4 linked regions of the Homo sapiens genome follow. The protein of the gene in region 3 interacts with the protein of the main gene of each other region in a pairwise test. Each region holds a gene or a part of one and is shown on either strand. Other genes may lie near its edges. The genes, in order: UACA, SLC23A1, AHCYL1 and PIAS4.

The links.
Region 1: the proteins of AHCYL1 (region 3) and UACA interact in binary tests that used the Homo sapiens proteins (3 or more experiments, as listed by UniProt).
Region 2: the proteins of AHCYL1 (region 3) and SLC23A1 interact in binary tests that used the Homo sapiens proteins (3 or more experiments, as listed by UniProt).
Region 4: the proteins of AHCYL1 (region 3) and PIAS4 interact in binary tests that used the Homo sapiens proteins (3 or more experiments, as listed by UniProt).

Annotation. Positions count from the first base shown.
Region 1 is NC_000015.10:70,662,511-70,669,801, reverse strand, and holds part of UACA (uveal autoantigen with coiled-coil domains and ankyrin repeats), read left to right. Parts: intron 1-339; coding exon 340-3,078; intron 3,079-4,987; coding exon 4,988-5,140; intron 5,141-7,291. UniProt on the Homo sapiens protein: Regulates APAF1 expression and plays an important role in the regulation of stress-induced apoptosis. Promotes apoptosis by regulating three pathways, apoptosome up-regulation, LGALS3/galectin-3 down-regulation and NF-kappa-B inactivation.
Region 2 is NC_000005.10:139,380,078-139,387,792, reverse strand, and holds the start of SLC23A1 (solute carrier family 23 member 1), read left to right. Parts: upstream 1-4,495; 5' UTR 4,496-4,513; coding exon of another isoform or gene 4,514-4,539; coding exon 4,540-4,575; intron 4,576-5,187; coding exon 5,188-5,301; intron 5,302-5,743; coding exon 5,744-5,901; intron 5,902-6,906; coding exon 6,907-6,995; intron 6,996-7,160; coding exon 7,161-7,228; coding exon of another isoform or gene 7,229-7,240; intron 7,241-7,403; coding exon 7,404-7,585; intron 7,586-7,715. Other genes in the region: MZB1 (marginal zone B- and B1-cell-specific protein precursor), read left to right, coding at 1-28.
Region 3 is NC_000001.11:110,008,765-110,016,055, reverse strand, and holds part of AHCYL1 (S-adenosylhomocysteine hydrolase-like protein 1), read right to left. Parts: intron 7,023-7,291; coding exon 6,911-7,022; intron 4,843-6,910; coding exon 4,699-4,842; intron 3,695-4,698; coding exon 3,594-3,694; intron 3,160-3,593; coding exon 3,057-3,159; intron 1,294-3,056; coding exon 1,199-1,293; intron 632-1,198; coding exon 525-631; intron 1-524. UniProt on the Homo sapiens protein: Multifaceted cellular regulator which coordinates several essential cellular functions including regulation of epithelial HCO3(-) and fluid secretion, mRNA processing and DNA replication.
Region 4 is NC_000019.10:4,024,534-4,031,824, reverse strand, and holds part of PIAS4 (E3 SUMO-protein ligase PIAS4), read right to left. Parts: intron 3,680-7,291; coding exon 3,638-3,679; exon of another isoform or gene 3,636-3,637; coding exon of another isoform or gene 3,628-3,635; intron 3,316-3,627; coding exon 3,225-3,315; intron 3,106-3,224; coding exon 2,977-3,105; intron 2,895-2,976; coding exon 2,789-2,894; intron 1-2,788.

The sequences.
Region 1 (7,291 bases), on a different chromosome or scaffold from region 3:
GATAAAGTTGATGATATTCATGTGTGGGTAGGTGTTAATGAATGGGGGAAGAAAGACAAAATAGCACCCAGTAGCCATGGCCATTGTCCGTTGTTCTGCCAGAAATAGACTTACGTGAACAGAACTCTCAAAATGTTGTGAATGTATTAAGGAAATCATATCCAGAACTGTTTCCTTACCACAAAAATCAGCATTGTGATTTTTTTTCCATCTTACTGCCTAATCTGAAAACCCTTTGATTCCTGATGATGTGCTAACTTTCTCTAAGTTTGGCAAATAAGTATAGTAAATGTCTCATTTAGGCTTTTGTGATTGATGTCTTTTTTTTTTTCTTTTCAGTGTACTTCCCCAGGTATACCAGCCCATATGCAAAGCAGATCTATGTTAAGACCTCTGGAACTATCTTTACCCAGTCAAACGTCATACTCTGAAAATGAAATTTTAAAGAAAGAGTTAGAAGCAATGCGAACTTTCTGTGAGTCAGCAAAACAAGACCGACTGAAGCTCCAAAATGAACTGGCACACAAAGTGGCAGAATGCAAAGCTTTAGCATTAGAATGTGAAAGGGTCAAGGAGGATTCAGATGAACAGATAAAGCAATTAGAAGATGCATTAAAAGATGTGCAGAAGAGGATGTATGAGTCAGAAGGTAAAGTTAAACAAATGCAGACCCATTTTCTTGCCCTTAAAGAACACTTAACAAGTGAAGCAGCCTCAGGGAATCACAGACTAACCGAGGAACTGAAGGATCAGTTGAAAGACTTGAAAGTAAAATATGAAGGTGCTTCAGCAGAAGTGGGGAAATTAAGAAACCAAATCAAACAAAATGAGATGATAGTAGAAGAGTTTAAGAGGGATGAAGGCAAGCTGATAGAAGAAAATAAGCGATTACAGAAGGAACTTAGTATGTGTGAAATGGAGCGAGAGAAGAAAGGAAGAAAGGTCACAGAGATGGAAGGCCAGGCAAAAGAATTGTCAGCGAAGTTGGCCCTTTCCATTCCAGCTGAAAAATTTGAAAACATGAAGAGCTCATTATCAAATGAAGTGAATGAGAAAGCAAAAAAATTAGTAGAAATGGAAAGAGAACATGAAAAATCACTTAGTGAAATTAGACAGTTAAAGAGAGAACTTGAGAATGTTAAGGCCAAGCTTGCTCAGCACGTCAAACCAGAGGAACATGAACAGGTTAAGAGCAGATTAGAACAGAAATCAGGAGAACTTGGGAAGAAGATCACTGAGTTAACATTGAAAAATCAGACACTACAAAAGGAAATTGAAAAAGTTTATTTGGATAATAAGCTCCTCAAGGAGCAAGCACATAACTTAACAATTGAAATGAAAAATCATTATGTTCCTTTAAAAGTAAGTGAAGACATGAAAAAGTCACATGATGCAATTATTGATGATCTTAATAGAAAGCTTTTAGATGTAACACAAAAATATACAGAAAAGAAGTTGGAAATGGAGAAATTGCTACTGGAAAATGACAGCTTAAGTAAGGATGTAAGCCGCCTAGAAACTGTGTTTGTACCTCCTGAGAAACATGAAAAAGAGATAATAGCTCTGAAATCCAATATTGTTGAACTTAAGAAACAGCTGTCTGAACTTAAGAAAAAATGTGGTGAAGACCAGGAGAAAATACACGCTCTCACATCTGAAAACACTAACTTGAAGAAGATGATGAGTAATCAGTATGTGCCAGTTAAAACCCATGAAGAGGTTAAAATGACACTGAATGACACGTTAGCCAAAACTAACAGAGAATTATTAGATGTGAAGAAAAAATTTGAAGATATAAATCAGGAATTTGTAAAAATAAAAGATAAGAATGAAATATTAAAAAGAAACCTGGAAAACACTCAGAACCAAATAAAAGCTGAGTACATCAGCCTGGCAGAGCACGAGGCAAAGATGAGCTCGCTAAGTCAGAGCATGAGAAAGGTGCAGGATAGTAATGCTGAAATCTTGGCCAACTACAGAAAAGGCCAAGAAGAGATTGTGACACTGCATGCCGAAATTAAAGCCCAGAAGAAGGAGCTCGACACAATACAAGAATGCATTAAGGTAAAATACGCCCCAATTGTCAGCTTTGAGGAGTGCGAGAGAAAATTTAAAGCAACAGAGAAAGAACTAAAAGACCAGTTATCAGAGCAGACACAAAAGTATAGTGTCAGTGAAGAAGAAGTCAAGAAAAACAAGCAAGAGAATGACAAGTTAAAGAAGGAGATTTTTACCCTTCAGAAAGATTTGAGAGATAAGACAGTTCTCATTGAGAAGTCTCATGAAATGGAAAGAGCATTAAGCAGAAAAACAGACGAGCTAAACAAACAGTTAAAAGACTTGTCACAGAAATACACGGAAGTAAAGAATGTGAAAGAGAAGCTAGTAGAAGAAAATGCCAAACAGACTTCTGAGATACTTGCAGTGCAAAATCTTTTGCAAAAACAACATGTTCCATTGGAACAGGTTGAGGCTCTGAAAAAATCTCTTAATGGCACAATTGAAAATCTAAAGGAAGAACTGAAGAGTATGCAAAGGTGTTACGAGAAAGAGCAGCAGACAGTGACCAAACTGCATCAATTGTTGGAGAATCAAAAGAACTCTTCTGTACCCCTGGCAGAGCATTTGCAGATTAAAGAAGCATTTGAGAAAGAAGTTGGAATCATAAAAGCCAGCTTGAGAGAAAAGGAAGAAGAAAGCCAAAACAAAATGGAAGAAGTCTCCAAACTTCAGTCGGAGGTTCAGAATACTAAACAAGCATTAAAAAAATTAGAGACTAGAGAGGTAGTTGACTTGTCTAAATATAAAGCAACAAAAAGTGATTTGGAGACACAGATTTCTAGCTTAAATGAAAAATTGGCCAATCTGAATAGAAAGTATGAGGAAGTATGTGAGGAAGTTTTGCATGCCAAAAAGAAGGAAATATCTGCAAAAGATGAGAAGGAATTACTGCATTTCAGCATTGAGCAAGAAATTAAGGATCAGAAGGAACGATGTGATAAGTCCTTAACAACAATCACAGAGTTACAAAGAAGAATACAAGAATCTGCTAAACAAATAGAAGCAAAAGATAATAAGGTAGGTACAAAGTAGTCTGCACGGCTATGTGTTGGAAACCCCAGAGCAGTGCTCTTTACCACAGAATCTCACAGGAAAGTAGACACAGGTATTAACAAAGTGACCCTTTCCAGTTTAGCAACTTGCGTGCAAAAATTCCGAATTGAAAAAAAAAGTGAAGTAACACAAAAGTCAAAAGCATTTTTCCTTCTGTTTCTTTAGCTGTTCTAGCCAAGAATTCAGGAACGATGGGGAGACTTAAGGCTCACTTGTCTCATACATGAAGAGTCAAAAGCCAGTGGGTTTGTGGCATATGAAAGATGGGGAAGAGGGTGGTGGGGAAGCTCTCTTTCTGGGCTGCAAGAAACCAAGAACACTGGGGAGCATCTAGAGTTGATCTCGGTACTCACCCATAGTAGTAAACTGAGCCCTCCAATTCATTTTATGTTCTGTTGCTCATGTCTTTCTACAGACTAGAAAGTCTACATCCCCTCACCCAGAATGTCCTTTCCCTCCTTTCTACTGAGTTGAATCCTATACATTCATTAACATGTTATCCTCCTTCTTAAAGCCCTCACTGTCCAATCTAGTCTATAGTAAACAGTTCCTCCTCTAAGGTGGATGTTTTACTGTGGCTTTGCCATCCATTTAAAACATTTATATTACCTTGTTAGAATTATGTAGTTGATCTTCCCAATCAGTTTTTATGAGCAGGGTTTATAACTTAACTTTCCATCTTAGCTTTAATTCTCATGGTACAATTTACAGAATAGGTACTCAACAATATTTTTGACACTGATGTTGCATAAAGTTTTTACTATGGATATGACATATAAAGATTGGCTGCAGTTTTATCCATTCAACATGTAATGATTAAATGCCTTCTGCATGTCATGTGCTGGGGATACAGTGGAGTAAACACAGACACAGACTGCCCTCCCCAGTGGAAAGTACTTGTACATACTGTCCTCTGGCACACCATCTCTGTGATTGAGAATTTAAATGCTCTAAGCTTGTTCAGAAGGTACCTATGAATATATATAGTAATATATAAGAGTTAATTATTAATATCTACTTGTTGCCATTTATTGAGCGGGTGCATGTAATTGCATTTCATTTTCTTTGTTTTTTTTCTATTATTATTTTTCAATAAAAAATTTTGTGGGGGAGGAGATGGTATCTTGCTCTATTGCCCAGGCTGGTCTTGAATTCCTGAGTTTAAACAATCTTCCTGCCTTAGCCTCCCAAAGTGTTGGGACTATAGGTGTGAGCCACTGTGCCCAACCTGATTTTCTTAACTCTGAAAGATTGTCCACCTTTCACCAATGTGGAATCTAAGGCTCAGAAAAGTAAATTAGCCAAGCTCATACAAGTTGACTCTGTCTGACTTTAAAGCAGGGTGGAAAAATGCTATGTTTCTAGGCACTTCCTATTCCTATAAACAAGCCTCCTTGTTTTTTTTCTCTCTACAACAAAGTGGTCTTAAATAATACAACTCTTGAAAGGAAAAAGGAACATATGTTAATCCTAGACTTACACGGGCCACACCCTTTTACTTTTCACACTTTGTTGCTGGGAATCCCCCTTCCCTTCCTGTGTTCCATATGTTACCTGGAAGATAGTTCATGTGCCTTCGTAGATGCTTATATATTAGCTAAAAGTAAGACTATGTTTATACTCACATCTTAGGATATATGTAATATTTATTCTTAATTTGGTATTGCTTTTGTAAATAATTTCTGGAGAGGGATTTAATTATAAATTACATATTGTATACATCCTTGGTAACAGTCTTGGCAATATTCATACCTCAATTTTCTGGTGTATAAAGATAAAGCTTCTGTCTCCAAAAAGGAATGATTTCTGTACAAAGATGTTCATTGTACATGATAAGTGAATAATATATTTCTCCTACAACATTTTTTTAAAGATAACTGAACTGCTTAATGATGTGGAAAGATTAAAACAGGCACTCAATGGCCTTTCCCAACTCACCTACACAAGTGGGAACCCCACCAAGAGGCAGAGCCAGCTGATTGACACTCTGCAGCACCAAGTGAAATCTCTGGAGCAACAGCTGGCCGTGAGTAACCAGGCACACGGGGCTTTGCAGGAATATGTGCTGGCTCCCTGTAGTTAGTTTGTAAGGCTCATTTAGAAATTAAAGTGCTCTGTAGCTATGTTCGGATCCAAGAATATAATTATTTTTATATGCGAAAAGTTACCTATACTGGTGGTGTAATAATACTTATTTGATGCCTACTATACACCAGGCACCATATTAAACATTTTACGTACTTTATCTATAAACTTTATCTTCATCATGATCTCACAAAGCAGATTTATTCCCTCCATTTAATTCTTAAGGAAACAAAGAATAACATATTTGATGCCTGGGGTCATTCAGCTGGGGTATAAACCTGGAACTGGCTGACTCCAAATCCAGCATCTTTCTCATTGCAGGGTGCTCTCTAAAATATTGGTCCACTAAACTAAAGGAGGTTTTAAAATAATCTTTTATCTTTGTGAATAAAGAGGCATTCCTATGGTTTTATACCTTATATAGAAGGATAAGTGCCTGGATTTAGAAGCTAATGTTGGAAGGTCTGGTCTAAGTCCTGCCACTTACAAGGAAGTGGCAAGGAACATTCCCTTTAACTCTTGGTTTTCTCATCAAGAAAATAGAATAATAACTGATTACTTGTTTACATTTATTATTATTTTTATTATACTTTAAGTTCTAGGGTACATGTGCACAACGTGCAGGTTTGTTACATATGTATACATGGACCATGTTGGTGTGCTGCACCCATTAACTCGTCATTTAACATTAGATATATCACCTAATGCTATCCCTCCCCCCTCCCCCCACCCCACAACAGGCCCCAGTGTGTGATGTTCCCCTTCCTGTGTCCATGTGTTCTCACTGTTCAGTTCCCACCTATGAGTGAGAACATGCAGTGTTTGGTTTTTTGTCGTTGCGATAGTTTGCTGAGAATGATGGTTTCCAGCTTCATCCATGTCCCTACAAAGGACATGAACTCATCCTTTTTTATCACTGCATAGTATTCCATGGTGTATATGTGCCACATTTTCTTAATCCAGTCTATCATTGTTGGACATTTGGGTTGGTTCCAAGTCCTTGCTATTGTGAACAGTGCCGCAATAAACATATGTGTCTTTATAGCAGCATGTGTCTTTATAGCAGCATGATCTATAATCCTTTGGGTATATACCCAGTAATGGGATGGCTGGGTCAAATGGTATTTCTACTTTGAGATCCCTGAGGAATCGCCACACTGACTTCCACAATAGTTGAACTAGTTTACAGTCCCACCAACAGTGTAAAAGTGTTCCTATTTCTCCACATCCTCTCCAGCACCTGTTGTTTCCTGACTTTTTAATGATTGCCATTCTAACTGGTGTGAGATGGTATCTCACTGTGGTTTTGATTTGCATTTCTCTGACGGCCAGTGATGATGAGCATTTTTTCATGTGTCTTTTGGCTGCATAAATGTCTTCTTTTGAGAAGTGTCTGTTCATATCCTTCGCCCACTTGTTGATGGGGTTGTTTTTTTCTTGTAAATGTGTTTGAGTTCATTGTAGATTCTGGATATTAGCCCTTTGTCAGATGAGTGGATTGCAAAAATGTTCTCCCATTCTGTAGGTTGCCTGTTCACTCTGATGGTAGTTTCTTTTGCTGTGCAGAAGCTCTTTAGTTTAATTAGATCCCATTTGTCAATTTTGGCTTTTGTTGCCATTGCTTTTGGTGTTTTAGACATGAAGTCCTTGCCCATGCCTATGTCCTGAATGGTATTGCCTAGGTTTTCTTCTAGGGTTTTTATGGTTTTAGGTATAACATTTAAGTCTTTAATCCATCTTGAATTAATTTTTGTATAAGGTGTAAGGAAGGGATCCAGTTTCAGCTTTCTGCGTATGGCTAGCCAGTTTTCCCAGCACCATTTATTAAATAGGGAATGGTTTCCCCATTTCTTGTTTTTGTCAGGTTTGTCAAAGATCAGATAGTTGTAGATATGTGGCATTATTTCTGAGGGCTCTGTTCTGTTCCATTGGTCTGTATCTCTGTTTTGGTACCAGTAGCATGCTGTTTTGGTTACTGTAGCCTTGTAGTATAGTTTGAAGTTAGGTAGCATGATGCCTCCAGCTTTGTTCTTTTGACTTAGGATTGACTTGGCGATGCAGGCTCTTTTTTGGTTCCATATGAACTTTAAAG
Region 2 (7,715 bases), on a different chromosome or scaffold from region 3:
GGTGTCAGCCACAAGAGAAGAGCTCTAGTCCTGGACTCTACCCTCCTCTGAAAGAAGCTGGGGCTTGCTCTGACGGTCTCCACTCCCGTCTGCAGGCAGCCAGGAGGGCAGGAAGCCCTTGCTCTGTGCTGCCATCCTGCCTCCCTCCTCCAGCCTCAGGGCACTCGGGCCTGGGTGGGAGTCAACGCCTTCCCCTCTGGACTCAAATAAAACCCAGTGACCTCACTTCTTTTCTCTGCAAAAGGTGCTTGTGGGGCTGGGAGTGCAGACATTGGTGTTTCTGCTGATGTCCCTTGTGAAAAAAAAAAAAAAACTCTCAAAATCAATTTTTTTTTTTTGAGACAGTCTCACTCTGTCACCCAGGCTGGAGTGCAGTGTTCTTGGCTCGATGCAACCTCCACCTCCCAGGTTCAGGCGATTCTCCCACCTCAGCCTCCTGAGTAGCTGGGATTACAGGCACCCACCATCATGCCCGGCTAATTTTTGTATTTTTAGTAGAGACGGGATTTCACCATGTTGGCCAGGCTGGTCTTGAACTCCTGACCTCAGGTGATCCGCTCGCCTTGGCTTCCCAAAGTGCTGAGATTACAGGCATGAGCCACCGCGCCCGGCCTTCAAAATGCTTTTTCTATTCTCTCACTCGACAACAGCACAGAAGATGGCTGTGACCGAATGCGTGGGGGCTTTCCCCCACACACCAGGCAAGCAATTCTGCAGCTGACACCAGCTGGGTGCCCTCCAAAATTCAATTCTGGCACTATCTACCTGGAGATAGTGTCAGATCCCACAGGCTGAGGGCTCAGTCCACCATTCTGTCCCCCATTCAGACACCAGTTCCAACTCCAGGCCTCTGGAGCTTCTGGCCTACTGGCTTCAAGATGAGGTTCCCACAACCCCCTCTTTTGAGTTCAACTAATTTGCTAGAGTGGTTCGCAGAGCTCAGAGAAACGTTTACCAGTTTATTATAAAGGATGTTACAAAGGATACAGATGCAGAGATGTGTAGGGCAAGGTATGGGGAATGGGCTCGGAGCTTCCATGCCCTCCATGGATGCAACACCGTCCAGGAACCTCCACGTGTTCAGCTATCCAGAAGATCTCTGAACCCTGCAATTTTGAGTTTCTGTGGATAATTCATTACGTAGGTATGATTCATTAAGCCATTGGCCATTGGCGAACAACTTACCCTCCAACCTGTCTGCCCTCCCTTGACTGGGGATGGGGGGTGAGGGGAGGCTGAAATCCTGCCTTGGTCTCTCTGGTGACCAGCCCCTGTCCTGAAGCTACCCTAGGGGCTGCCAGCCATCAGTCAATCATTAGCACACAAGAAGACATCATTTTGGGGATTCTAAGATTTTAGAAATTGTACTCCAGGAAACAGAGGTCAAAGACCAAATATATATTTCACAATATTACATCCCTCCTACAGAAGGCCAAATTTGCATCCCTACAACTTCCAGAGGTAAGAGGGAGCCATCAATGGTGTGGTGATGTAATCGCCCAAAGGGTTCACCTTGCTCAAGCCTAGACAGAGCCGATTGCTCAAGACAGGGGAATTGCAATAAAGACTAATTAACGCAGAGCTGGCTGTGCAGGAGACCAGCGTTTTACTATTACTCAAATCAGTCTCCCCAAGCATTCAGGGAGCAGAGTTTTTAAGGACAACTTGGTGGATGGCGGGGAAGCCAGTGAGCCAGGAGTGCTGATTGGTCAGGACTGAAATCATAGGGAGTTGAAGCTGTCTCCTTGCCTTGAGTCAGTTCCTAGGTGGAGGCCACAAGTCCCAACGAGCCAATTTATGGATCTGGGTGATGCCAGCTGATCTATCAAGTGCAGGGTCTGCAAAGTATCTCAAGCACTGATCTTAGGAGCAGTTTAGAGAGGGTCAGAATCTTGTAACCTCTAGCTGCATGACTCCTAAACCAAAATTTCTCATCTTGTGGCTAATGTTGCTCCATCCTACAAAGGCAATCTAGTCCTCAGGCAAGAAGGAGGTCTGCTTTGAGAAAGGGCTGTTATTGTCTTTGTTTTAGACTATAAACTAAAAACTAAGTTTCTCCCAAGGTTAGTTCAGCCTACACTCAGGAATGAAGAAAGACAACTTGGAGGTTAGAAGCAAGATGGAACTGATTAAGTTAGATCTCTTTCACTGTCTCAGTCATAATTTTGCAAAGGTGGTTTCAGTGACATCCCAGGTCTTCAGAGCCTTCATGAGAAAAGAGAACCAAGGAAAACTGTGCACGCAGGCCACCTTGTGGCACACCTATTCCAGCCACTCCATGCTATCTGCACCCCTCCGAGAACACACGTCTCACTGGGTCTACACCCAATGGCTGTTCATTTTCCACACTCTGCCTTTGACCCCAGCTGGTATGGATGGGCCCTGGGTTTCTGACCAGCCAGATTCAACATTTTGGTTCTCAGTCCTGCTTTCTCTGGAAATTCTTCTGGCTGGGGCTTTTCCTTAGTAAAGAAGCCCTGGACCCCACCTAGGTCTGGGAACTGGAGATCGGTGGCACCAGAACTTTCAGTTTCGTTTGTGAGTGTCTCTGATCTGGCCAAGCCCTGGGAGAGAGACAGAACATTCTAACCCTCATTTTTAGAAATATTTTTATTTTGCACGAGAGCCATGTGCAGGAAGACAATCTAATCCCCCTTTGACAGATGCAGAAACCGAAACTTAGACAACAGAAGGGGTTTGGGCCAAGTCCCTGGCTGAGTAGTAGTAGGGCTGGGAGGGGATTCAGACTTAGGGGACCGGAGAGGCGGGCTGCTGGGGGAATGGAGGTGCCTGGGGCAGGCCCTGGCCACTCCAGCTTCCCTGGGAGCTGCACTCAGCCCCCTCCATCCTTCACCTGTTCCAGGACCTGCCTGAAGCCCCACCATCCGTGGCCTTCACTCAGGAGAGAAACCCTAGACACCAGGAGGAAAGTCAGGGCCCAAGAAACCCACTAAGCTTTCAGGACAGGGTGTGGAGCCGGGCACCCATGACGTGGACCTGTGTTTCTGTGGGGTGATTAGAGAGGCTGCATCAGCTCTGGGTGTGTGGGCCCCTTCATGCTACTGTGGATCTGGGACCGTGTTCTCCACCTTGTTCTCTATGCGTGTTGTGTGGTTTGGGTTGAATTGAGTGTCCATGGAGCCGTATCTGCAGGGGGTCGGGCTTGGTCTCCACAGCACCCTGGGGAGTTCTGGGAGGAGAAGTTGGAGAGAAAAGTGCTGGGGAGTTGCAGAGGCTTCAAACTGGTCCAGCAACTTTGGAAATTGGGAGCAGTAGCCAAGAGGGAGAGGAGAGGACAGGCGGACAGAGGAACAGTGTGGACACCGGCAGGCGGGCGGACTCAGTGCTGTGGCATGAAGCTGCTGCCCAGCTGGAGAGCGGTGCTGCCCCTTGGCCCTTCAGGCAGGGCCTGGCCATGGGCACAGCGACCCAGAAGTAGGTGGGCTCTAGAGTGCTGGGGCTGGGGCAGCCCAGAGGGGAACAGAATGGGGACCTCAGGCCCAGCCCTCACCAGCTGAGGAGCCTGAGTTCTTAGGGCCCCTCCCCATGTCCCCCTCTGCCATCTCAGGCCCTAGGGCCAGGCTGGGCTGGGCCTGCCAGGAGGGGAGACAGGCTGGGCATAGGACTGCCTTCCTGGGCTAGGTGATGGGCAGTCACACAGGGCTTGGTGCATAGAAAGGCCCCACGCTCCATCTAATGCTCCTGCTATCTTTAAATTCTTTATACTTTTGGAATAAAGGCCTCACATTCTTACTTTGCACTGGGTCCCAGAAATTATGTGGCTGGGAGGGGAAAGGGATCTGTGCCCTGACACAGAGTGCAGACCCGGCTGGGCCAGCCTAGGCAGCTCTGCCTGCAGAGGCCCATCTGCTGCCTGCCTCAGGGACCCTGAGGGGTGCAGGGTGGTGAGGGCAAGGCAGCTCAGACCAACCTGAATTTTAGGATTGGTTTCTGCAAACTTGCTATCTGCATGGCTTGGGTCAAATCACATCTACTGAATCTGTTTCCTTCGCTGTTAAAGGGGTTAATACCGCCCAGCACAGGGGTTACTTGGGACAGTGCAGATCCATGTTTCTTGGCACAAGGCCAAGGCCATTCCTCAATAACGAGAATGACTATGATGATGATGATAATGATGAACTAGTTATTAATCAGTGGGGAAGGGCCTCATACAGGGGGTTACATAATAAGTGCCTGTTTCCACTCCCTCTTTCTCCGCTCACCTGGGGCTTGGTAAACTTCTGGTCCTCACCCCCTCGACTCTGGCCCTCTCTTGGGAAACAAGAACAGGTCCAGCGCCCAGGCGCAGATGTGGGCAGGGAAGGGCACATGTGGCAGAGGCTTGGGTGGCTTTTACTGTCCTAGTGAGAGTTAATACATTACCTCTGCCCGGGCCCCCCTTTCGCAATCCAGAGCTGGGCATCTGGTTACAGATTTACTTCAAACAATGCCTGATATGTGGAGTAAAGTCCTCCTCCTTGGCCTTTGTCAAGTCATCCCCTCTTCTCCTCAGGAACTGCTCAAACCTGTGCCCCAAAGATGAGGGCCCAGGAGGACCTCGAGGGCCGGACACAGGTGCTGGGGGCTGGGGGTGGGGGCTAGGGGGGGCAGGGGGGGTGGGGGGCTGGAGGGCCTGTGCAGGCCTTCTTCCTGGAGGCCAGAGATAAACGTTCTGATGAACTTGATAAGAGTGACTGTCCCAAATTGAATGTGGCAACTGGGGGATGGGTGGAGGTGGGGGTGAAGGAGCCTGCAGCTTTGGGACTGGCTGACTCCAGGTTGGGGTTCAGGAGAGGCCTAATCTCCCGGCCAGTGACACCCCAAGGATCTCCAGGGGGCAGAGGTGGGACCGGATTGGACTTGTCCACAGTCTTGAGCCCTCTTGGCCCCCTCTCCTGTGGTCTCCAAGACTTCTGACTTAAGGGTCCACTTCCCTGGCTAAAATGGCAGGTCCTGAGGGCTCTAGAAGCTGGCACAGTAGACTCATCCCTGCGGGAAGCAATGCAAAGTGGGAGAAAACTGTGGCCAGGCCAAGTGGCACCCGGGTGGATGGACTGTTGGGGAGGGCGGGAACCCCGCTCTCAGTTGCTGACAAGCCACTTGGGCTGCCTGATTGATTCTGGGGCAGAATGGATTTTGCCTGTCCCCATCACTTCACCCTAAGCTACTTATCTCTGCTGCCTCCAGCATGAAACCACCAGGGACCCCTCGACCCCGCTACCCACAGAGCCTAAGTTTGACATGTTGTACAAGATCGAGGACGTGCCACCTTGGTACCTGTGCATCCTGCTGGGCTTCCAGGTGGGTCCCCCAGGGCCTCCCCGCCCTCACTCTGCACACTCCCCGGGGACTCCAGCCCCTCCCTGGCCAGCAGGGAGTATCTTGGGTAACAGGAAGAAAAACCTGAGGTCAGCACAGTGGCTGTCAGCAAGCAGGAGTCGGGAAGAGGCTGAATCCTGAAAGAAGATGAACTCCCTGGGGGAGTGTGACGCTTGCCAGGTGGGGTGTTGGTGACAGGGAGCAGAGCCGACTCCACGGAAGCCGCAGGAATATCTTGAGTGGAAATTAGTGACCCCCAGAGTGGTCAGCAGTAGCTCTCTGGGAATCCCTTGTGGGGACTGCCAGTCCTGGGCAGGCAGCCGGTTCCAGGCCCGCTGAGGCAGGCATGAGGACACTAGGTTGTCCCCTCTCCCTGGAGCTCTGGGGTCCTGCCTCATGCACTCTGCTGTCTCCCTCTGCCCAGCACTACCTGACATGCTTCAGTGGTACCATCGCCGTGCCCTTCCTGCTGGCTGAGGCGCTGTGTGTGGGCCACGACCAGCACATGGTTAGTCAGCTCATCGGCACCATCTTCACGTGCGTGGGCATCACCACTCTCATCCAGACCACCGTGGGCATCCGGTGAGCCGCCCAGCCCCCCAACCCGTCCCCCGCCACCCCTCCACTGTGATCCACACAGCAGGAGCAGGTGGGCTCCCAGAGGACACTGGTGAGACAAAAAAGCCGCTTTCTGCCTCCACCTGCTTCTCCTATCCCAGGCCAGCCTTAGAGCTGGGCAGCGTGGCCCCAACCCTGGGAATCTTGATCTAGGCACACTTCAAAGACCAGGCATCTGCAAGTTTAAGGGATTGTACCCTCGCTGGCTCTCCCCTCTTTTTTTTTTTTTTTTTTTTTTTTTGGAGACGGAGTTTTGCTCTTGTTGCCTAGGCTGGATTGCGGTGGCGTGATCTCGGCTCACCACAACCACCACCTCCCGGGTTCAAGCGATTCTCCCGCGTTCAAGCGATTCTCCCACCTTAGCCTCCTGAGTAGCTGGGATTACAGGCATGCGCCACCATGCCCGGCTAATTTTGTATTTGTATCTGCCCACCTTGGCCTCCCAAAGTGCTGGGATTACAGGCGTGAGCCACCAAGCCTAGCCGGCTCTCCCCTCTTAAACCCCATTCTGAATATTGCCCAGATGGCAGCCCTGAGCTAGCTCCCAGGGTTGGTGCCAGCCTCTTCGACAGCCCACCCTCCCAGGGCCCCACGCTCCCGAGTGCACAGCCCTAGGCCTGGGTGGCATTTGAGCTGTTTGAGCAGCGGGGGACAGGGGAAGATTGTGAGAGAAACCTGGATGCGGGAACTGAGGTGTCCACTTCCGGGCAGGTGCCCCCTCCTCACAGTGCAGGAGCTGGTGGTGGGAAGGGGGCAGGTTTTGAGCTGGGGGCTCCATTTGTTTTCTTCCTTGGGCAGCCAAAATGTTAGAGATGGTCTTCCCTGGGGCCTCAACGATTTCCATCTGCCCTTGTCCCTTGTGTCTCTGTCACTCTCTCTGTGCTCTCCCTTCCTGATCTCTCCCCGCATCTTTATCCCTCCTCCCCACCCGCCCCTCCCCACCCCTGTTGCTTTGTGCCTCTCCTCCAGGCTGCCGCTGTTCCAGGCCAGTGCCTTTGCATTTCTGGTTCCAGCCAAAGCCATACTGGCTCTGGAGAGATGGAAATGCCCCCCGGAAGGTGGGTACACTTCTGGGGTCTGCACTGGGGAAAAGGGGAGGCCCAGAGACCTGGAGGTCTGAGCAACTGTCCCGGGTCAACACCAGGGTGCAGCCATGGCAGCATCTTCTCTCCCTCTCTGTCTCTGTACCTGGTCCGTGTGTGTATCCCTGACTCTACCCCCAGAGGAGATCTACGGTAACTGGAGTCTGCCCCTGAACACCTCTCATATTTGGCACCCACGGATACGGGAGGTGGGTTTGCATGTAAGCATAGAAGAGGCCGGGTCCTGAGGAGGGGCTATATGGGAGTGAGGGTGGCCGCTGAGTTTGGGGATTTGAGGAGGTGGTCCAGGAGCTTTGTTCCTGCTAGCAGCAGCCAGGTCATGACCTTTACATGGTGACTTACGGCTGATGTTTGCCCTTCCAGGTCCAGGGTGCAATCATGGTGTCCAGCGTGGTGGAGGTGGTGATTGGCCTGCTGGGGCTGCCTGGGGCCCTGCTCAACTACATTGGGCCTCTCACAGTCACCCCCACTGTCTCCCTCATTGGCCTTTCTGTCTTCCAAGCTGCTGGCGACCGAGCTGGCTCCCACTGGGGCATCTCAGCTTGGTGAGCAGGCACCAGGCCTGATCCCTGCCCAGCCCCAGCACCCTACCCTCTTCATGTCCTTGGTCCTTCTTCCCGGCTCCTGGCCCCAGCCTGGCCTCCCATCCACTTCCTGATTGTGCCTCTGCCCCCA
Region 3 (7,291 bases):
TTCAATAGAAACCCATGCCTACTTCTGATAAACAAAGACTATCAATGATTCTGATATGGTTCCGTGTGTGTGTGAGTAAGCATGCGCAATGTGCCCCCAAGAAACACTCTTTCAGATATCTTTTCAGTATTCCAACAAGCCAAGAATATTTTGCCCAGTTTTACTTTTTGTAGTGTGTATAACATGTAGTTTTACAATAGGATTGTTTTTCATATTTCAAATATAAAATGATAATACAATATTGAATACAGTTTTTCAAGATACATTTATTCCCTACCCGCCCCTCAACACTAGTTGAGAATCACTCAATGGAGTAAATGGGAGAGAAAAATGTATGAACTAGAACCTGAAATAACTTCCTTCTAGGATCAACTTGATTTTTCAAAAGTAAAAACTCAAAATTTTATCTAATGAAGATATTCCCATTTAGTTATAAGTCTGAAACACAGTCCTAAAGCCTAACAGAGACCAGGAGAGTTTGCTGAGGCAAGGACACAAGGGGCAGCTACTCCAGAATCTGTTACCTGTGAACACCAGTCACGCTCTCTTCCACAATGCCTCGGATCTTCTTAAACACGTTTGGATACTTCTTATAAACCCAGTGGGTTAAGTCTCCCCCATCATCCAGGATCTATAGAACAGCCAGAAGACTTCTATGGGCATTCAGGCTGCTAGGGCTGGGGGGAACTTTGAACCCACTTTCTGTACTAGTAAGAGAGCCCTGTATGTTTTGGAAGAGTACTCCTCAGAGCTCCCTAGAGCAGGCTTAGAGAGTGGAAATACAGTCAAATTTGTTGGTGTAAAATGGTTAAAAGGATTCCTAGGTTTGCTTTAGGCTACAGTGATGAGTATTAAGCTAATCACAGACTCATTTTTAGTCTAGAGTCTTGAAATATATAGCCCCTTTGAATGCAAAAGGAGAACTGGGGCAGGAAGGAAAGAAAGCAGAATCCTACTCCAAAGAAGCACCACTATTTTGTTCTGGTGTGTTTGAGCCATGTGTTCAGCTAGTCTTACCCTTCCCCCACCTTTCCATTCAGTACTCAGACCCATTCTGAATAGGTATCAAGCTAAACACTTTAGCAACAAAGTCAGTGCATAAGACCAAACATCCAAAACATATTTAGGGAACCATGCTTTGAGGGAAAAAAAGGAAATAAATCTATTGTCAAAGTGTAGGATGTATATGCATTATTACCATGTTGGCCTGCCACCCATCCATGTTCACACAGCGGTCAATACACCACCAGAAGTCATCTTCTGACTCGCCCTTCCAAGCGAACACTGCAACTCCTGTAGAGACAGAAATGAATCAGCTGATTCCTCCTTTGAGGAGTGTCCTGTACCAAATCACTTTCTGAGATCCATGTGAAGAGAAAAAGGCAAAAGAAACAATTTCAGAAGGGAAAAAATTCAGAGCCAAAAGTCAAAGAATCACTTTTGGTTCAGAAATTAATTAGGTTAAGAAATTAAGGAATTTTTGCTTTAAAAGTAGTTTGGAACCTTAAAGTGTTCCTTTCTCTGGACTAATTTTATACTTAGAAGGAGATAAAATGAAGTGGGAATTAATAAAAGTTGTTAACTGGAGCATTATTGATATTAGTAAACATCTTGAAACAACCTAAATGTTCTCCATTAGGAAAATAGTGAGGTGAAATCACATAGCCATATGAATGACTATTACAAATGATGCTGTCAAAGTTTTCAGTGACATGGAAAACTACGTCTGAAAATATTGTATTTAGGTTATAAAACTGTATACATATTAGAATTTATGTAAAGTAGAAGAAAGGAAAAGGAAAAACATTAATCAAATACTCTATGTAGTGGGATTGTAGGGTTTTGGGGAACTTCCTAAATTTTTTGCAGTGAACACTTATCAGAAAAGAATAAACAAAAAAACCCAAAAGTATTATAAAGTTGCTTTCTGAGGATCTTAAAAAGATGAGAGGTCCGGCTGGGTGTGGTGTCTCACGCCTGTAATCCCAGCACTTTGGGAGGCCAAGGCAGGCAGATCACTTGAGGTCAGGAGTTCGAGACCAGCCTGGCCAACATGGTGAAACCCCATCTCTACTAAAAATACAAAAATTAGCTGGGTGTGGTGGCATGCCACTGCAATCCCAGCTACTCAGGAGGCTGAGGCATGAGAATCACTTGAACCCAGGAGGCAGGGGTTGCAGTGAGCCGAGACTGCGCCATTGCACTCCAGCCTGGGCAACAGAGTAAGACTCCATCTTAAGAAAAAAAAAAAAAGAAAGAAAGATGAGAGGTCCTCAAAGAAACTTCACGGTGATTTTCTTCTGAATATTTGAATAATAAAAATTATTATTATTGTTATTAATTTTTGAGATGGAGTTTCACTCTGTCGCCCAGGCTGCAGTGCAGTGGCATGATCTCGGCTCACTGCAGCCTCTGCCTCCCAGGTTCAAGTGGTTCTCCTACCTCAGCCTCCTGAGTAGCTGAGATTACAGGCGCACACCACCACTCCCGGCTAACTTTTGTATTTTTAGTAGAGGTGGGGTTTCACCATGTTGGCCAGACCGTTCTTGAACTCTTGGCCTCAAGTGATCTGCCCGCCTCGGCCTCCCAAAGTGCTGGGATTATAGGCGTGGGCCACCAGGCCTGGCCTGAATAATAAAAAATTATTTTACGTTTAATTAAACTCACAAATAGCTCATATATTTTCAATGCCATACTGAATACCAAATTATTTAATGCACTATCAATATGAAAGGTACTTCTTACTTGTGCTCTCTCACAAAATTGATGGCACTTATATAGTTTAACATTCTTCCTCGTTCAACTAACACTAGAACTGGGCATGACCCCATGCCATTAGATTATTTTCAAAGGCCATTTTTAATGACTACATAATATTCCACCATGGATATCCATCTTAATTTTATTATCCACTTTCTTCCTGTTGAGGTTTTTATCATGCACAATTTTATAGCCTCTAGACATATATGATATTGTAATGACAATTTTGATACAAAAAAGTTATATGTTTGGATAACTATTTTGGGGCAAAGTTGGTGGGAAAAAACCGAACTTACCAGCCTCAGCCAGTGCTGCAGCTACTTCATTCTGAGTTGAGTAGATGTTACAAGCAGACCAGCGGCACTGAGCCCCCAGGGCACAGAGTGTCTCAATCAACACCTGTGTAGAAGTGTAGGAAGACAGGGTGAGGAAGAGAAGGGCCACCCAGGAATGGAGAGCAAGCCTCATCAAGATAGCAATACCTATCAACTCTGCACCAACAGGTGCTACACTGGAAAGTTACAAAAGGGTGTACTCCAGCGAGGTGGTGCACTGGTATTTAACTTTGCATAAAACATAGGTTTCTAAAAGTCTTTATAACATTTTATAACAATCATATGTTTGCAAATCTAGACTTTCCTAGGTCAAGTTTGCTGAAAGTGGGTTTACATATTAAAAAAAAACCCAGAAAACCCCATTATTGTGTAACAGGGAGATCCTATTAATAGTTAGCATTTGGAGGTTGGCGAGTTAGGAAAGGAAAAGTGAAAAAAAAAAAATTGATTTCTTTCTTCCCCTTATCAGAAGTCCCTCTTTTCTTCCAACAAACTCACCGCTGTCTGGGCTGTGATGTGTGTACAGCCCACTATTTTAGCACCAGCCAAGGGCTTCTCCCCCTGAGCACGTTTCCTGAGTGAAATCAGAGCAGACATGTCTGTGAAAGAACAGAGGATTTGAGCTAGGTCTGCACTAGCAGTATCATCAGTTCCTGCCCCAGGGCTGGTCTGGATCTGTTGAGATATGGTGAGATGAGGCAGAAAAACTTTAAGCCTATTTCCATGACGACTGGCAGCTTCAACGGCACAGTAATAGTGGAGAGCAGTCATGCAACCACTTGGAGTTTCTCTCTTCCTCTACTGCTTCAGCTTTATACACAGAGGACTGAACAGAGAATGAAGTAAATCCTTAAAACTGATCAAAATGAAGGGTGAGTCTCATCATTCATTTGGGAAGAGAGGAAAATAGTTAAGGCATTGGCTAATAGATTCCTATATATAATCATCAGACCAGAAAGACTGTACCCTCAGCCGAAACCACTAACTTCTGTTTTTCTATGCTGTCTTACCATGTCCTGTCAGTCTGTTTGGTTTCTCTATTCTCTCTCAGTATAGAACATGCCTTCAATGTGTAAACAACACAAGAGTAAAGAGGACCTTACTGGGAGTGGCTGGGGTAGAGAAACCAAGATTTAACTGTCAGTCACTTTTACTCTGCTCCAGCAGAGGGTGCTCAGGACCAAACAAGACTCTAGGTCACCACATCCTTACCTTAAAACCCTTCCTCATCAGCTGCTTCTGGGCAATCTGGGTCTCTGCCATTGGCAGCTATAGTAAGATCCCATATAACCAACTACCACGTAGTGATCTAGGACTTGTCAATTCTGCCATGTAGATCTTTGAATACAGTGGTGGGGTGGGGCAAGGAGGAAAACAGAAACTACTCTGTGTGTAATCACCACATGCTGAGAACAGAAGGAAGAGAGAACAAAATCCCAAGACTTAAGTTCCATAGAGAGAGAAGTGTTTATCCGAAAGTCCATAATACTGTCTTTCTTCCCAGTACACTTTCAAGTCAGCTTTCAAGTCTTAAGTTGTTTGTGGATTCTGATGGCCAACAAGAGGGTTGTTTCTGGTCCCCTAACCCACTCCCTTTCTTTACCTTGCTCTGCAATCTCAATCTCCCGGCGTCCAAATTCTGCCTGCTTGATGTTCTTCACACAGAAATTGCTGCTGCCCTTGGAGTTGGTTTGCTGCTTCTCTCGGGGAGAAACCTCATCATCAGAGCTATCTGTGTAGGATGCAGCTAGAGCCAGGAAAGAAAAAAACAAGGATAGAAAAACCTCAGTGGTCCCCAACTCTACAGAGTGCAGTCCCCAAGGGACTTTCATTTAAGTTAAGGGAACACCCTTAATTGGAGCTACCTTTTACAACGCTCTCAGTTCTGCTCCTCTAGGTTCTAATAGGTGGTATGAATGAAACTGTTGTGGGTACTTCCATGTTGCAGCTCTTTCACCCACCCTAACAATACTGTGCTATTAGTGCCTATGACAAGGGACCACTGATTATAAACCTGCAGCTATAGTAATCCCAGATAATAGAGGTACTTGGTCCCATCTGGATTGGAACCAGACCTGGCAAAAACAGAAGAATAATTTAGGGCAGATAAGGAATGCTATTTCTATAGATCACTGGTTCTCAAATTCAAGCATCTATCAGGATCACATGGAAGGTTTGTTAAAACATATATTGCTAGACCCTGTGGCCAGTTTCCCATCTGGCAGGTATGGAGTGGCACCTAAGCATTAGTAGTTCCAACAAGTTACCAGGTGTTGCTGATGCTGCTAGTCAGAGGATCACACTTTGAGAACCATGGATATAGACAAAAGTGATAAGATAGTCTTACAAGGGATTTTACACTAAGTTGTGCTCAAGGAATAGAGAAAGAAAGAAATGGCACAAAAGGCAAACAGCTCTGGTTCTACTGATAGCCCTGGGAAAGTCTGTCAAAATGATCAACTTTAAAAAGTGGTTTCACATAAAAGCTAAAAATACCACTTATCTGACAGATATGCAAGAGGATATACAACAATCATTCCTTACCTCTCAAATCACTTCTTTCCTCTCTGAATTGAGTACTTTCCTCATCACGGTTTCTGCTAGTATACCTGGACTCTCTCACTGACTGACTTCTATGTACAGGTCCTCCTCCTGTCCAGCTAACACAAATACTACTAAAGATTATCTTCCCCACTATGACATTTTAACCATATCACTAAGCTTTTTAAAAGGCTCTAATACATTTCTGTAACATGGCCGTCAAGATCTTTGAAGACTTTTTAAAAGCCTTCTTCAGTCGTTTTATCGTTCTTCCTCTCATAACTCAATTTTTCACAATTAATTTTTCTTCTTTCTTGGCTACAGTTAGCCTGCTTGTCACACACCACTTTTTATCTGTCACTCCAGGATCATATATAACAGCTTTTCATTTATGTTAATCCTTAATGTTGATAATACAATGCAAAAGGTATTCTGGCAAAGGACAATGAATGGCTTTTGGTACAAATATCTCTGCTGACATTAATAGCAATCTGTAACCTCTTAATCTTTTAACAATGAGTCTTCAGTTAAACAATGACAAGGTTGTATTGGATGCCCCATTAGATGTCCCTAATGTTTTCTCCTGTATTCATCTGCCAAGATTCTATATTCTTTTCCATGCTAATTTTCTAATACATGCTCTATAGTTGGGAAAGACACAATACAAAACAGAAAAAGACTTTATTTACAGAGAGTTAAGACAGGAGGAGAGAACTAAAAAGAAACAGAGCTGGAGTTACATTACAGTAGTCTGAATCTTTCCTGCTCCAGAGTCTAACAGGGGAGGATATTCCAACAGAAAGAATAACCTAATAAATAAGAGAAGCCAAAATACTAATTTTATTGTTACAATCTAAGCAGTCTTGGAGACAAGAAAGAAAGAGATAGGTGACAGGGTATATTTTACACAAAGAAATCGTGCTTCAAAATGCACTTCTTTTTTAAGTCCAATTCTGTCAGCCAAAATAGCATTGATTTCTTCCTTTTGAAATGGGCGGATCAATGTGGGAATGGGAACTAGCCCAGTCCTACCAACTGGGCACTGGCCACAGACCACACACACAGACAGCCAGGGGGAAGAAAGTCTCGAGTCGACAAAAGCTTCCCCAGCTACTAGCTTGGCTGCAGAACATTCCCACTGCCCAGCCACTAACAGTTTTCAGCACAAAGGTGGGCAGTCATAACATGAGGTATTTTCAGATTGCTAAGTGAAGAGCACTGGTAGCAAACAGGGAAGAGAGATTAGAGAGGACATGGAGTTCATTCACACCTACCTGAACTGTAGCTGTCAGTGGAGGACTGTGAGATCGAGCGAGACAAAGATCTTCGGCCAGTTTTGGTGGGGAATTTGGTGAACTCCTGCATGTCATCAGCAAACTGGATTTGCTATACAAAAGGAAGACAAAAAGTTGAAAACTTATAAGGAAAATCCATGAAATGTTTTTTTTTTTAAGGATACATTGTCTTTCCCTAAAAGCCATGTAATCACATGGTTCCTACTAAGCCAGCAACTTTCCCACCAGAAATGGGGGAAGGCCGAGGCTACTCTCTGACTTCTCCCAACACGTCAATCACTGTCTCTTCCCAATTGTTTCTGCAGGATTTGGGAGGAGGGGCTAAGGTTAAGAACCAATTTCGTTTAGTATATGTTCAAT
Region 4 (7,291 bases), on a different chromosome or scaffold from region 3:
GAGACGTGCGCAGCAGGAAGGGTTCAAGTGAGGCAAAGGTGAGGACTTCCTAGGTGCAGCAAGAAAGAAATCCAGTGACAGAGAGGCTGAGCCTGGGGCCGGCTGTGGGAAGCAGCAGGAGACCCCTTCGGAGAGGAAGCCTGACCCCACAGCCCCCAGCACTGCGGGCTCTGGTCACTGAGGAGTTAAGCCCGGCCCCCACCCCGTGGGCCTAGAAGAGGCCTGCCCGGCCCCAGCCTCCTCCCTCAAGTTGGCCATGTCCCCACAGGCAGGGAAGGTCGGGGGCGGTTGAAAAAAGGGCCCTTTGAGGGAAGAGGGAGGTGGGGCGGGGTAACCCAGGACACAGAACCCTAACTTTGCCACTCTGTGCCTCAGTGTCCCCACTGGTCACACGGGTACATAGCCAGGCCCTCCATCCCCGAGCCTGGAGGAGGCTGGCCAAGGATGCCGGACTCCGTGGAGGGACCCCTCACCCTCCACGTCCTGCTCTGCAGAGGGGGTGCTGCCGGCTATCTTTCCTGACTTGGGGGGCTGGAGTGCACAGGAGGCTTCAACACGATGGGGCTCGCAGGCCCCTGGCAGTGCCAGCACTGCTCCAGGCTTCTGGACACCCAGGCAAGGAGGTGCCCTTTGGTGGTCAGGAACAGGGACCAGAGGCCTGGGCCTGGCTGTGCCAGGAGGGCAGTGCTCATGGGGAACTCTCTGGCCTGGGCACAGGGGCCTGGGCAGCTAGGAGGGGCAGCTGGAAGACCCTCTGGCCCACATTCTGCCAAGGGGCTGGGGTGGTGCCCAGATTCCACCTGAAAACAGCCACCATTCGGGAAGGGGGTGCGAGCAAACCCGGCTGGCCCAGAACCGCCCTCTCGTCAGCCTGGCAGGTGGTCCCAGTCCTCACCCACCTGCCTGACTCCCACTCCCAGCTCCAAATGACTCCAGGTTAGGCCTAGCCTCTCCATAAGACAGGCCTGCAGAGCCCACTGAGGCCTGGGCCCCAAGCATGTGGGGTCCAGAGAGATGTCCAGGTGCCCTCAAGATGGCTCAGATCTATTCTCCTGAAGACAGTGGCCACCAGAGAAGGCCAGCGACTTTCTGAGGCCACACAGCCGCCAGGCAGGGCTAACTGCTGTACGCTGGCTTTGTGCTGCGTGGCTGCTTGGGGTGAGGACTGATTTGCCTACCAGGCTTGGCAGGCTTTTTTTTTTTTTTGAGATGGAGTCTCACACTCTCACCCAGGCTGGAGTGCAGTGGCACGATCTCCGCTCACTGCAAGCTCTGCCTCCTGGGTTCACGCCATTCTCCTGCCTCAGCCTCCCGAGTAGCTGGGACTACAGGTGCCTGCCACCACGCCTGGCTAATTTTTTGTATTTTTAGTAGAGATGGGGTTTCACCATATTAGCCAGGATGGTGTTGCTCTCCTGACCCCATGATCTGCCCGCCTCGGCCTCCCAAAGTGCTGGGATTACAGGTGTGAGCCACTGCGCCTTGCCGGCAGGCTTTCTTTTAAAATTGCTCTGCGTGTCACTTAAAAAAAATTGTTTTCATTGTTACAAGGACAAAAGAGACCAGGTGCGAAAGTGGCCAAGACTGTAATCCCAGCACTTTGGGAGATTGAGGCAGGTGCACTGCTTGAGCTCAGGAGTTTACGACCAGCCTGGGCAACACAGCAAGATTCCATCTCTACGAAACATTAAAAAATTAGTTGGGGCCGGGCGTGGTGGCTCACGCCTGTAATCCCAGCACTTTGGGAGGCCGAGGCAAGCGGATCACGAGGTCAGGAGCTTAAGACCATCCTGGCTAACAAGGTGAAACCCCGTCTCTACTGAAAATACAAAAAATTAGCCGGGCATGGTGGCACATGCCTGTAGTCCCAGCTACTCAGGAGGCTGAGGCAGAAGAATCGCTTGAACCCAGGAGGTAGAGGTTTCAGTGAGCCGAGATCGTGCCATTGCACTCCAGCCTGGGCAACAGAGTGAGACTCTGTCTCAAAAAAAAAAAAAAAAAAAAAAAAAAAAATTAGTTGGGTGTGGTGGTGAACACATGTGGTCCCAAGCTACTCAGGAGGCTGAGGCAGGAGGATGGCTTGAGCCCGAGTTAGAGGCTACAGTGAGCCACGATCCCACCACTGCACTGTAGCCTGGGCGATACACCGAGACACTTTTTTTTTTGAGGTGGAGTCTCGCTCTGCAGCCCAGGCTGGAGTGCAGCGATGCAGTCTCAGCTCACTGCAACCTCTACCTCCCAGAGACCCTGACTCTCTAAAAAAAAAAGAAAAAGAAAAAGAAAAAAGATTAAACGGGGCCTCACCAACGTGAGGTCAGACCGCCGCCGCCCGTCTTCCTCCCACAGCAACTGCCTCCACGACCCTGGCCGTCCGTGACCCGCCAGGTCCCGCAGCACCCTCGGCCCCGCTGAGGCAACGAGAAGGGGCTGCTTAGACCACAGCTCCCTCTGTGCTCCTCTCACCCCTCCCGGCCTCTGTGCTGTCCCGGAATGAGGCTCCAGCTCTTCTGCTGCTTAGACCCCTGTGGGCTGGAGCACCTGGGGCCAGCAACACGAGGTGTGACCCCACAGGCCTCCGCACAGCAGCTCCCACTGCCAAGTGCCCCCTCTGCCATCCGTATCCTCCAGAGACCTCCCCAGCCACAGCCGGGGGGCCATGGACCCCCAGAGTGACAGGCGGCCCCTGATCGATCTCCTCCGGGTGCAGGGCCCCCCGCTTCACCCAGCACAGGGCGGGTTTCCAGGGTGGACTTGGCACCCCTCGGCCGAGGTGGCCTGAGCTGCTCACCCAGTGCCTTGCACAGCTCCGGGTGCTTTACCCCAATGGTCTTCAGCCTCTGCAGCAGCTCCGATGAGGTCAGCTGCCGCACCAGGTACAGGGCCACCGAGTAGCTCTGGGGACAGAAGGAAGGGGTCAGGGCTGGCAGGACGGGGCCGGGGTTGGGGGGCAGGGTGGGCACCCGGGCACGCACTCACCTTGCCGTAGTTCCCCCAGGTGACAGTGATGCGGTTGGTGGCCGAGGACAGGTACATGAGGTGGGTGAGGTTGATGGGGCGGCACGGCCTCTTGGGCTCCACCCCGGGCTTATTGGAGGGGTAGTAGCCCTGCAAGCAGATGGGCCGCTCAGCCTCGAGCCAAGAGCGGCTGGGAAATCCGACGGCCCCCACCCTCCCTCCACGCCCCCCAAACCCGTGCAGCCGACGCGGGGGCGGGGCATGCTCACCGGGACGGAGCAGTAGCTGTGGTTGACCTTCACAGCGATGTTGGGCGGGTACTGGTCCTCCTGAGGGCAGCTGGTGTCTGAGTAACAGATTCTGCAACGACAACAGGGACCATGGGGCGGGGAGGGGGCGCACAGGAGGGACTAGGCTGCTGCGGGGGTACACGAGTGGTAGCCAGGCGGCAGTGATGGGGGCACCGGAGAATGTGACACGGGGGGTATCAGGGCCCCCGGGTGTGGCCTGAGTGGGGGTCGGATGGTGATGTATCCCCAGACAGGGATAGACAGCAGGTGAGGAGAGCTGGGCTCTGCTGTTAGCAGGGGAGACTGAGAAGGGCCTGGGCCAGGACTGGGGGGCGGGGAGGGGCGGGTGGCTGGGGGTCCAGCCCTGGGGTCGCGGGCACACCTGGGCATACCTCAGGACGACCTGCACGGCTTTAACTCCGGGCTGCAGTTCCCTGTGGGTGTGGAGCAAACCAGAGGAAAGGAAAGGAGAGCTGAGTGAGGAGGGCGTGACCCCAGCCCACCCGACAAGGTGGAGACCGCCACACCACAAGGCTCCCTCCCCCAGAGCTGGGAAACTGAGGCCCAGGACTCTTTTGTACGGGCTGGGTGAGAGGAGTGGCTGTGAGGTCAGGAGAGGGGCTGGCCTCCCTGGAAAATGCAACAGAATCCACAGCAAAACCCTGAACCAGAGAGGGCAGCCAGGTGCCTCTCCCTGCGAAGAAACATAGCTAAAACGTGCATGCGGGAATCTAGCAGCTGGCTCACAATGGCAAGAAAACACCCAGTTTGGGAGGTCAAGGCTGGCGGAGCTCTTGAGCCCAGGAATTTGAGACGAGCCTGCGCAACATGGTGAAACTGTCTCCACAAAAAATTACCCAGGCGTGGTGGTGCACACCTGTGGTCCCAGCTGCTTGGAGGCTGAGGCAGGGGGATCGTCTGAACCCATGGAGGCACAGGCTGCAAGCTATGATTGCACCACTGCACTCCAGCCTGGGTAACAAAGAGAAACACTCTCCAAAAAAAAAAAAACAAAAACCAGTAACACCTGAGGATAAACTTTAACAAGAAACGCCCCCAGAAGAAGAGGAAAAAGTCTATCTACCCAAAGACGCATCCGTGGATGTTCACAGCAGAACTGACCACAACAGCCACAAACTAGCAGCATCCTGAGTGTCCTTCCGTAGACCGAAGGACCAACACGCACGGGACGCGACCCAGCCATGGAAAGGAGCCAGGCTCAGACCCAGGCCTCAGCACAGGTGCACCGTGAGGATGTCCCACCCAGTGAGAGACGCCAGACACGAAAGGACACACAAGGCAGGTGGCTCACGCCAGTAACCCTGGCACTTTGGGAGGCGGAGGTGGGTGGGTCACTTGAGGTCAGGAGTTCGAGACAAGCCTGGGCAATATGGTGAAACCTCGTCTCTACTAAAAATACAAAAATTAGGCCAGGTGCAGTGGCTCACGCCTGTAATCCCAGCACTTTGGGAGGCCGAGGCGGGCGGATAACAAGGTCAGGAGATCGAGACCCTCCTGGCTATCATGGTGAAACCCCGTCTCTACTAAAAATACAAAAAAAAAAATCAGCCAGGCGTGGTGGCGGGTGCCTGTAGTCCCAGCTACTTGGGAGGCTGAGGCAGGAGAATGGCGTGAACCCAGGAGGCAGAGCTTGCAGTGAGCCAAGATCGTGCCACTGCACTCCAGCCTGGGCCTCGGAGTGTGACTCTGTCTCAAAAAAAATACAAATATTAGCTGAGTGTGGTGGTGCACGCCTGTAATCCTAGCTAGTCAGAAGTCTGGGGCAAGAGAATCACTTGAACCTGGGAGGCGGAGATTGCAGTGAACTGAGATCGCGACACTGCACTCCAGCCTGGGCGACAGAGTGAGATTCTGTCTTAAATAATAATAATAAACGAAAGCCACATAGTATGTGATTCCACTTCTATGAAATGTCCAGGACAGACCCATTTACAGACAGGAGGGGATGCGTGGGGGCCAGTGGATGAAGGGTGGCAGCTGCTGGGGATGGACATGACTGCCCTGAGACTAGGCAGTGGTGGGAGCTGCGATACCTACTGATCCACGAGAACCCACTCGATGACACCCTTAAAAACTGTATATTCTATGGTATGCAAATCATATCTCGACATAAGAAAAAGAAATGTGGGATGGGCAGGGTGGCTCACGCCTGTAATCCCAGCACTTTGGGAGGCAGATGTGGGGTGGATCACGAGGTCAAGAGATTGAGATCATCTTGGCCAACATGGTGAAACCCTGTCTCTACTAAAAATACAAAAATTAGCCAGGCGTGGTGGTGCGCACCTGTAGTCCCAGCTACTCGGGAGGCTGAGTCAGGAGAATCGCTTGAACCTGGGAGGCAGAAGTTGCAGTGAGCCGACATCACGCCACTGCACTCCAGCCTGGCGACAGAGCGACTTCATTTCAAAAAAAAAAAAGAAAAAGAAAAAGAAATGTCCAGAAGCTTTCTGAGGAGAAAACCAAACTTTTTTTTTTTTTTTTTTTTGAGACGGAGTCTCCCTTTGTTGCCCAGGCTGGAGTGCAGTGGCAGGATCTCGGCTCACTGCAAGCTCCGCCTCCCGGGTTCACGCCATTCTCCTGCCTCAGCCTCCCGAGTAGCTGGGACTACAGGCGCCCGTCACCACACCCGGCTAATTTTTTTGTATGTTTGGTAGAGACGGGGTTTCACTGTGTTAGCCAAGATGGTCTCGATCTTCTGACCTCGTGATCCACCTGCCTTGGCCTCCCAAAGGGCTGCGATTACAGTTGTGAGCCACCGTGCCCAGCCCAAACTGATTTTTTTATACTGTGTGGCTGGCTCTGAGCACTCTGCAGCAGGGACCCAGTGCAGGTGGAGGCTGTGCTGACCCAGGTACATAGACAAGGAAGACGAGGCTGAGAAAGACGAGGTCGCCACCTTGGGTCACCCAGGCAGAGAGGCCTCCATGGCCAAGCCTGGCTCGGCTGGATCTGAACCCTTACTAGGTGTGAGGGCCAGGCTGGGAGGCCCCAGGAACCTGGCCCCACAGCAGGTGGGGGCGGTGGGTCTGAAGCGGCTGGGCACGAGAAGCTAGGCATTAAATGGGGGCGCCCGGCCCAGCCCTGCCATGGACTCAGGGGTGACCTGGGCAAATGGCCTCCCCTGTCCTAAGGGCCCAGCACCTACCATTAGCCTGCCCAGCAGGAATCTGTCTCAGCTGGAGGCAGTACAGCCTCGGAGAGACTGAGGGAGGAGCAGAGCGCAGGGCAGCCACACTGGCCCCTCACCTGCCACAGTTCAACCGTCCTCATCTGAGGACGACCCTGCCCCAGGCGACACCGAGCTGTGTCTGGGGACATCTGTGGTTGTCAGAGTTAGGGGTGTTCCTGGCACAGAGCAGGTGGAGGCCAGGGATGCTGCTCAGCAGCCTGCAGTGCCCAGGACGGCCCCACCGAGGGAACCATCCCACCTCACTATCCACGGTATGGAGGGGGAAACCCCGTATTCATTATATAACTGGGAAAAAACCTGACTTCCGCCAGGCGCAGTGGCTCACGCCTGTAATCCCAGCATTCTGGGAGGCTGAGGTGGGTGAATCACCTGAGTCAGGAATTCGAGACCAGCCTGATCAACATGGCAAAACCCTATCTCTACTAAAAATACAAGATTAGCCGGGCGTGGTAGTGAGCGCCTGTAATCCCAGCTACTTGGGAGGCTGAGGCAGGAGAATTGCTTGAATCCAGCAGGTGGAGGTTGCAGGAAGCCAAAATCGCGCCACTGCACTCCAGCCTGGAAGCCTGGATAACAAGAGCTACACTCAGTCTCAAAAAAAAAAAACAAAAAAACACCTGACTTAACTTCCTGCTCATGCTGGACACCAGAATAAATTCCTAAGGCGGGCGGTGTAAACCGGGGACCCCCAGCTCCTGGGATTCACCTACTTTCTCCCCCTCCAATTCAGGGTGTGGATTTCAATGTATGCAGCCTTCTGGGACCTCAGCAGGGCAGAGGATCATGGGACACAGAGTCTCTTGGGGATACGTGGAATCCCCTAACCCAGGGAGGT